Homo sapiens: one gene and its partner. The protein of the gene in region 1 interacts with the protein of each later gene in a pairwise test. Each region holds a gene or a part of one and is shown in the gene's direction. Other genes may lie near its edges.

Evidence for each region. Proteins that work in one complex are often made in the same cells at the same time.
Region 2: the proteins of MSANTD3 (region 1) and VSTM2A interact in a two-hybrid assay, tested with the Homo sapiens proteins (one large-scale study listed by BioGRID and IntAct).

The regions. Positions count from the first base shown.
Region 1 is NC_000009.12:100,425,907-100,429,942, forward strand, and holds the start of MSANTD3 (myb/SANT-like DNA-binding domain-containing protein 3), read left to right. Parts: upstream 1-1,236; 5' UTR 1,237-1,487; intron 1,488-1,522; exon of another isoform or gene 1,523-1,664; intron 1,665-3,707; exon of another isoform or gene 3,708-3,756; intron 3,757-4,036.
Region 2 is NC_000007.14:54,540,876-54,545,174, forward strand, and holds the start of VSTM2A (V-set and transmembrane domain-containing protein 2A isoform 2 precursor), read left to right. Parts: upstream 1-1,499; 5' UTR 1,500-1,855; coding exon 1,856-1,934; intron 1,935-3,746; coding exon 3,747-3,913; intron 3,914-4,299. UniProt on the Homo sapiens protein: Plays a role in the regulation of the early stage of white and brown preadipocyte cell differentiation. Promotes adipogenic commitment of preadipocytes by increasing gene expression of the transcription factor PPARG in a BMP4-dependent signaling pathway.

The DNA.
Region 1 (4,036 bases):
TTGGTGATGGGAATGTAAAATGATTCATTCAGCTGCTGTGGAAAACTTTTTGGCAGTTCCTGGAAAAGTTAAACATAGAATTACCCTATGACCCAGAAAGTCCACTCCTAGGTATGTATCCAAAAGAACTGGGAACAGGTACTCAAATATGTGTACAGGCATGTTCAGAGCAGCACTATTCACAATAGCCAAAAGGTGGAAGTAACCCAAATATCTATCAAGGGATGAATGAATAAACAAATTATAATATACACATACAATGGGATATTAATCAGCCATAAAAAGGAATGAAGTACTGATCCACGCCTCAACATGGATGAATCTTAAATACAGGCTAAGTCAAAGAAACGACACAAAAGGCCGCATATTGTATGGTTGCATTTATATGAAATACCCAGAAAAAAGTAAACTCACAGAGATAGAAAATAGCTGAGTCGTTGCCAGGGTCTGGAGGAAGGAGGGACTGGGGAATTACTGCTTAATGGAGTATGGATGTTTCAGAACTAGATAGAAGTGGTTGCTCAACATTATGAATGTAATAAATGCCACCAAATCGTTCGCTTTTAAGTGGTTTATGTTATGCGAATTTCACCTCAAAAAAAAAAAAAGTTAAAAAGCCTTCTCTGCCTTTCTCTGGGGTTGGAGTCTTCCCAATGGATCCAGGGCAAAAGAAACATCCAGCCACTCTGTTTGCGGGAGGAGCAAAGGGTGGCTTGTCCCGACAGTTTGAGCTGTTGTGCATGCATTTACACACGCATTAATTCCAAATGAGTCAGCACAGTGTCCGAGACAGGTCCTGGGCTCCAGTGAGCACAGTCGCTCTCCTGGGGGAGGCACGTTCCACAAATTAACAGAAGTTCTGATAAACTCAGCATAGGGGGATTCGCTGTCCCAAGTATCAAGGAGTCCTAAAAGAAAAGGGCCTATTTCAGTCGGGGGACCTGGACTGAACTAACTCGTGTTCATGGCCGCCAAATCCCGTGTGACAAATGTATTCTTTTGTTGTTCATAGAAATAAAACAGTTTTTCGGGCCGCTTCAGGAGCTCCTCTGCAAAGGTGGGGAAAAAAGGCAACTAAATCAGCACGAGGACGTCAGCCCGAGGATGTCAGGAGCGGGGTCGGTGCGGACGGGCAGGTGGGCGGGGGGGCACCCCGCGCCCCGCCCCAGTCCCCTGGAGGCCGGCGGCCGCAGCTCGGGGAAGTGGGGACTGGCGCGGGGCCGCGCTCCCGCCCTCCTCGGCGGCGCCGACGGACCGGCAGGCGGCGGGCGGTCCGCGAGGGGGCGGCGGCGTCCGGGCTTTGTGGCCGCGGCGCGCGCGGCGGGGCCTGGCCGGCCGGGGGCGCGCCGCCGCCGCCGCCGCCGCCCGGCGTTCGGGAGCCCGCGGCCCTCCCGGCCGCCCTGCTTGCGAGAGGAGCCCAGGCCGCCCGCCCTCGCGCCTCGCCGGCCCCTCCCCCGGTCGCCGCGGCTGCCGCGCCGCCGCTGCAGGTAGGAGGCTCCCCTTCCGGGCGGGCCGCAGCCGGGCGGGGGCGGGGGTGGGGGGCGCGGGCCGGGCGTAGAGGGGGCCGGGGGCCGGCATGGAGGGTTTTCGGGCCGAGCCGCTGCGACCCCGGCCTTGCAGGCTGGGCGCCGGGCGGCCGCCTCTGCGCGCCGCGATGGGACTCGGTGAGTAGGGCCGGCCTGCTGCCTACAAAGCCCCGGGGCGCGGGCCTCTGGGGTACTCAGTGGCGCGCCCACGGCTGGGAGCGGGGTGGGCTTTGGACTCCCGGGCTCGGGGAGCTGCTCGGGGGGAATCCAGGTGACCTGCAGTACCGCGGTCTTCCCATCCCGGCGTCCCCACTGTGTGCTGATCACTGTGCTCGGCGCTTTTCCATACTTGTCTCCTTTAAGACCTCCAGTGCCCCGCCCGTCCAGAGTGTAACGGGAGGGATCCCTCACTTGCAGGATGAAGGCCGAGCATCACATCCTTGCTTGACTGACCTTGGGAAAGCTCCTTTACTCCGAGCCGGGGCTACTGTTTCTGTAAATTAGAGGCGGGGGTCGGGGGGGCGTGGTATAATATCTACCCTCAGGTACTATTGTGAAAGATAATGTATGTAAATGATAACAGCTAAATTTTGAGCACTCTGTATGTACCAGGCCCTAGGTACTAAACAGTTGGCATGAATTATCATTGAATCATCACCCTGGCGCTGTGAGGTAGTTACTGTAAATTGCATGAATAATCTTTATTTAGGAGTACGAAACAGTGAAGAATTTAGTCTCCCTATTCCGATTCAGGAGGTTGGGTATTTCTTAGGCGTGATAACATTTAACATTACAGACGTTCCTGCAGTATCGAGGAGAGTAGTTATAGGATGCAGGGATATATTTGTCATACATTTAAAACTGGAGGTAGGATAATATCAGGGCCAGAGAGTGTGCCTTTCAGCATGTCAGAGCAGATGATTGTATTCCAAGGAAATTGCTGAATATTAATTAAAAAACATAGTTTCTGAGTTAGGATTGAGGATGGCTGTGGGAGTCCAGGGCCAGAGAGAGACATGGGATGGACAAGGGGGAGAAGAAGGATTCTGAAGTCCTGGAGGAAGATGTAGAGGAAGGCACCAGGGTTCACCATCCCTCCCCTGCAGCATTGCTGGGCCAGATTTCATCCCTCCCGTAGAGACCCGGGCTAGGGGACAAAGGCTGCTGGGGCAGGGGGTGGGGAGGGATGTTATAGGTTGTCTCTTTTTACTCCCAGGCCGCCAAAAATATTCAGATTGATGGAGGGTCAGGTGATTGGGCCTCCTAAAATGCCATTATCCCTTCTCACAAAATTCTTGTGTTTCAGGGCATGGGGATGCTTGCCAGCCCTAATGGTTGATGAGATGCTTAAAATACAAAGGTCTCACTGATATAATGGAAGAGTGCATTTTCAACACCATTCACTGGGTTAGAGAAGTAATGGGCCTGAGGAGATTATTTTGGGTTTAGAATGGGGAGAACTAAAAAGGCTTTGGATCCTGAAGAAGGAAGAGAGGCAGGAAGGGCCCAGGCACTGCACCTGTGGGGAAAGGCAGGAGAAGAAGGAGCTGAGGACTTCACCCCACCATCTGCAGAATACCCAACAGGCTGTTCAGTTCTCAGCTACCAAGGGGGCACCCTTTCCTCTCCCAGTTGGTGATGATTTGTTAACGTATTGTGGAAGATCAAGGGCTGGACTCAGGCACTCCTGTCCTGAGTGAGTAGGAAAGACGTCTGGGAGAAGGGTGGTTTATTTTGTTTTTAACCAGGCATTGAAGCAGAGAGTAGGTGGGTACGTAGCGATGGTGAAGGTAGGGAACATCATGCATACTTGGAAGAGCAATTGCTTTGGAGAGATAGACAGTTTGGGGTTTGAATCCTAGCTCTGCCATTTCTTAGCTTTGTACATTTTTTGTGAGGATAAAATAATGTTTTTTCACATATCTGGCGTGCAGTTCAACAAGCACTAGTACCGTATTCCCTGTCCGTGATAACATTCATTCAACAAATGTCTGCTGAGCACCAGTCATGTGCTGAGTCATATGTTACATCCTGGGGATACAGCGATGAGTCAGAAATTATGTATTCCCCTAGGAATTTCCCAGTCCAGTGTGGGAGATGGACGCAAAGAGCAAATTGCAAAAAATATGGGAAGTGCTACAGTACAGTCATGTACAACTGTCAGTGAGCTCATAGAAGAGTAACTCATTCTGAGCCAGTGGGAACTCAGGGCCAATCTATATCTAACAAGGTGAGTATGAGACCTTATGACACAGGTTTTTGTTTTTTGTTTTTGTTTTTTTTTTGGGGGGGGACAGTCTCGCTCTGTTGCCCAGGCTGGAGTGCAGTGGCATGATCTCGGCTCACTGCAGTCTCCACCTCTTGGGTTCAAGCGATTCTCTTGTCTCAGCCTCCCAAGTAGCTGAGATTACAGGCACCTACCACCACGCCCAGCTAATTTTTGTAGTTTTAGTAGAGGTGGGGTTTCACCATGTTGGCCAGGCTGGTCTCAAACTCCTGACCTCAGGTGA
Region 2 (4,299 bases), on another chromosome or scaffold:
GTTTGAACATAAAGTGATTTCCTTTCTTAGAACGATAAACTTCAAAATCCTTTGCTAAATACAAGGAGGATACAGAGTCTGGTTGGCCTAAACATGAACAGATATAAAATATCTCCCATGATTGTCTCCAAATCCCATATTCTGCCCCTACTCACAGTAAAAAATAAATATACTTTCAGAAAATAAATAATATTGTGATGACGTTATTGTGTCTTTAGTTTTCTGAGCTTTAAGTTATTGCTGCATTCAGCAATAGAAGATAAGTGATTTAAAATGCAACCGCTATGTTAAGGTTAATTTTTTTTCTGGCTAGTAAAGGCATTAGCCAACTACAAATTCTTTATCTGTAAAATGAAAATACATACCCTACATTGGCTTCCTGATAGCATTATTAAGACTAATTCATATTTCAAACTAATACTGAAAATTTGTGGCATAGTTGCATAGAAATAATAATGGGAATAAAAAATGTGTGCTCTTCTTAGATGGCAAATGCTATTAATTTTGTTAAAAAAAATTTAAATCCACTAATAGTTGGATTGCATAAGGTCAGATAGAGTCTTTAACATAATATACATTGTTGTTTCAGTTCTTAATTAAAAATAGAATGTACATCTCAAATCTTCACCAAGGCAGATAAGTAGATTTGTTCCACATTCTGAAACTTATTGTGATTTTTTGTGTCTAAAATAAGATTCCTTATTCACTTAGTCCCAGGGAACATTACATAAGTATTGTGCTATGCAAAAGAAAAGCAAATAAACAAAACAAAATCACGTAATGAAGACCTTAACGGTATTTAAAACCCCTCCCCCCTCCAAAATACATGGAAGATGAAGGAAAAGAAGGCAGGAGGTATGTAATTTTTTAAAAAGTAAACATAGTATGGTGGGCTTTTCTTTCCAGAAAATTCCCTCAATGCGTGACTTTTTGTACTTTTTCTCTTCTCCGTCTGCCAGCTGGAGCGATATGGCTCCTGCATGAGCTGCTTGTACTGAAAGCTGTTCAGCAAGAAATTCGTGTGAAATCGTAGCATGTGATGCTCCTGGTTGGAGCAGTTAATAACTGGGTAAGCGGCATTTCCCTAAATGGCTGTTTTCCTCGGCCCACCCGTCTCTCCCCCATCCCATTGCTCCCCGGTCCTCAGCAATGCCCCAACTCCCTCCCGGAACCTTTTGCTCCGAGCCCCCCGCCAGCGCCGCAATCCCGTCACTGTATTGTCCTCCTCGGCACCGAGCGATCTGATCCGCCGAGCCAGAAAGACACCCGATGGGGGAGAGAAGCAAAGTGGAAAAAAACCGACGTCCCTGCTCTCCAGAAGGGAGACCCCAGCGGCGCCGACGAGCCCTGCGCCCTCCGCGGCCGCCCGGCGCGAGCTCCCGGGCGGGGCGCTGTCCAGCGCGCACAGAGTTAAAGGCATCATCGCAGCCATTAGAGGGAAAAGTTGCGGCGCCGCGAGCCCGGCGAAGTCCTCAGCCCGCCCCGCTTGCCCACTCCCCACTTCCCGAGCCGGCTCCGTGTTTAGGGAGGGCAGTGATCACGCAAGCCGGAGCGGCGGGCTGACGTTGGACGAGCTGCCAGGTAGCTGAAAGCAGGCAGCCAGGCAGCCGAGACACTTCCCAGCGATTCCAGCCTGGGCTCCGCAGGAAGCCTCGCTGAATCCCAGCCAGCTGGTTCTAACCTTCCAGAATCGCAATCCCTTCTCCCCACAGCCAGCCCTCGCCAAGCAAGCAGCAGGATGTTTGCAGTGTCGCGCCCAGGGCTCTGAGACTGAGCCTGCCATCCACTCGCACGCCTTTCTTTCAGGGCTTTTCGGCTGTTGGCTACACTGATGTGACCCCCCTCCCTTTTTGGAATGATGGGGATCTTTTTGGTGTATGTTGGATTTGTTTTCTTTTCCGTTTTATATGTACAACAAGGGCTTTCTTCTCAAGGTAAGTCTTGCTCAATGGCAAATATACATTTGCTTGCGTGTGTGTGTGTTTCCTACACTCAAAAAGAATGGACAGGCAGATAGAATAAGCTTCCTAGCAAGTAACAGTGGGCTTAGGCTGTATAAATAGTGTTCTGTTTGACGATTTTTTTTAAAGTTTATTAAACTGTAGACTAGCTAGGCTGGAGAGAAAATCTAGCTGGTGCCTGACAATGAGGTGGGCTCCTCGGTGAGCACAAACACAGGGTCGTGTGGTGTGTGTGTGTGGGTGTGTGTGTGCTTTCTATCTGTGTGCATGCACAGGGTAGCCACTCATGCATACATAATCATCGCAAACAAACACAGGGCTGGATACTGGGACTCTCCATTGCCAGTCCCTCTTCCTTGTGTAGTCAGACTGGGCTTAGAGTTTCCCTTTTGTAGGTCCGTGTGACTCCTTTTGTATGTGTGTTTATCAAAGGACAGACTCCTCTGAGGACCCATAAAAAGCCACAACTTGCATGACAAGCAGCAGCAGCCTGCTGAACCCGATTGTTCAGGACTTCGTAGGCTGCAGTGGTCGTTTCAGCACCATGAACAGATCACATCTCTGGTGCCAAAAGACTGCATCACTTCTGCAAGCAGAAATGCCATACTCCTTCTGCCAGCTAGAATAGAAAAGCCCTTTTCCGATCAGAATGTCTCCTTAATAGCTTCCCTGTTTTAGGTACAAATATAGTTTCATTTCACTAGAGATCATTTTTGGGATTTCATAAAATGTTGAAAAGAGACAGTGTCTCTCTTTAAACCGGGGGTGAGGTGAGGGGTGGGGGGAGGAGTGCATCCACCCCAAATCATTTCTGCATTCCCCATGGCCCTCTTCTCCATAAGTGTGCATTGTGGTTGTGCATTTCCACTGGCCATACAAATCTTCCCAGGACTGCTTTTAGGGAACCATCAGCTCTTTGCAAAGTGCCCCTTAGATAAGATAAGAACAACCACGTTGGTAACAAGATAAGAGCATTGCATGTTCAAGAAATGCCTTTAGGAGGAAGGAAACATTATATTTTTGTGAGTTTCACCAGGGTTGCATGAATCTTGCAAACTAGCAGTGTCAAGGTTGGTAATGAAAAGGCTGAGAAACATCTCCATAGTGACTTCTAAATAATATTTAATCTGAACTAAGCCTGGATGTGTGATCATTACATCTTAAGATGTATGGCAATTCAAAATACAGTGACTTGATGGGAACAAATAAAGGTTAATTTGGAGAGAAGGAAACATATACAGTTTATAAAGTGTGCAACTTGTTTCACTGCTGCAGGCGTGTTTCACTGGTGTTGCTAATAACCGTTTTGATGTATCAGGAATGTGCATTTTGACAGATAATCATGATCTACTCTGTTACATGAAACATCCAGTTAGTGGTAGATTGTTTAGAAACTTAGAGGCAAGAGACTCTCCTCATTTATCAACTTGACAGATTGCCTAAATTGTATCTCACTGACTCTCTCAGTAAATGTTGTGGAATACTGCAATCTGACAAAAGGTATTTGGATCTACCTGCGGGGATCTTGGCTAAGAGTTATTGGCAAGCTTGTTAACCTTTCCATTATCTGGATTTGATCAACAACATAGTGATTTAGGTATGATACCAAAAGTTAGACAGGAAAGAGGCAAAGGAAGGGGGCTGGGGGAACCAGACGAAGCCGAGGATGTAAGAGAGGGGTTTTGTTGCTATTTAAGTCCAGGAAAAATGTAGCGAGCTCTCAAGGAAAGAGACTCAGGCAAGAGGGGTGTGGATATTCCAACAGGATGCCTTTCTGTTTTGCAGCAAAATTTACCGAGTTTCCGCGGAACGTGACGGCGACCGAGGGGCAGAATGTGGAGATGTCCTGCGCCTTCCAGAGCGGCTCCGCCTCGGTGTATCTGGAGATCCAATGGTGGTTCCTGCGGGGGCCGGAGGACCTGGATCCCGGGGCCGAGGGGGCCGGCGCGCAGGTAGCGGAGCCCGCCGACCCCGCGTCTCCCCTTCGCTCGCCCGGTCCTCAGGGTGTCCGGCCCGGGGCTGGGGGCCGAGGTGCTGCCTGGACACCCCTGGGGACCTGCCCGGTTCTGTGGAAGCGAGTGACCCCCAGGGCTTCTAGGGAGGGAAAGGGAATTTGTCCTGGGGACGCGAAGTTAAAACCCAGAAGGAAGTCCTGCTGCCCAGTTTCTTCCTGTTAAACCGGGAAGCGCCTCCTCCTGTAAGTTCTGGTACTTAGGCAGATGCCCGCCTTGCCCCTACCACGCTGCCACATCCCGGGACATCCGGGAGCCCCTTTCCAGGACGAAAGGAGGGGGAGGGGAATCGGTGGGCGGCCTCCACCCCCCACCCCACCCCCTCT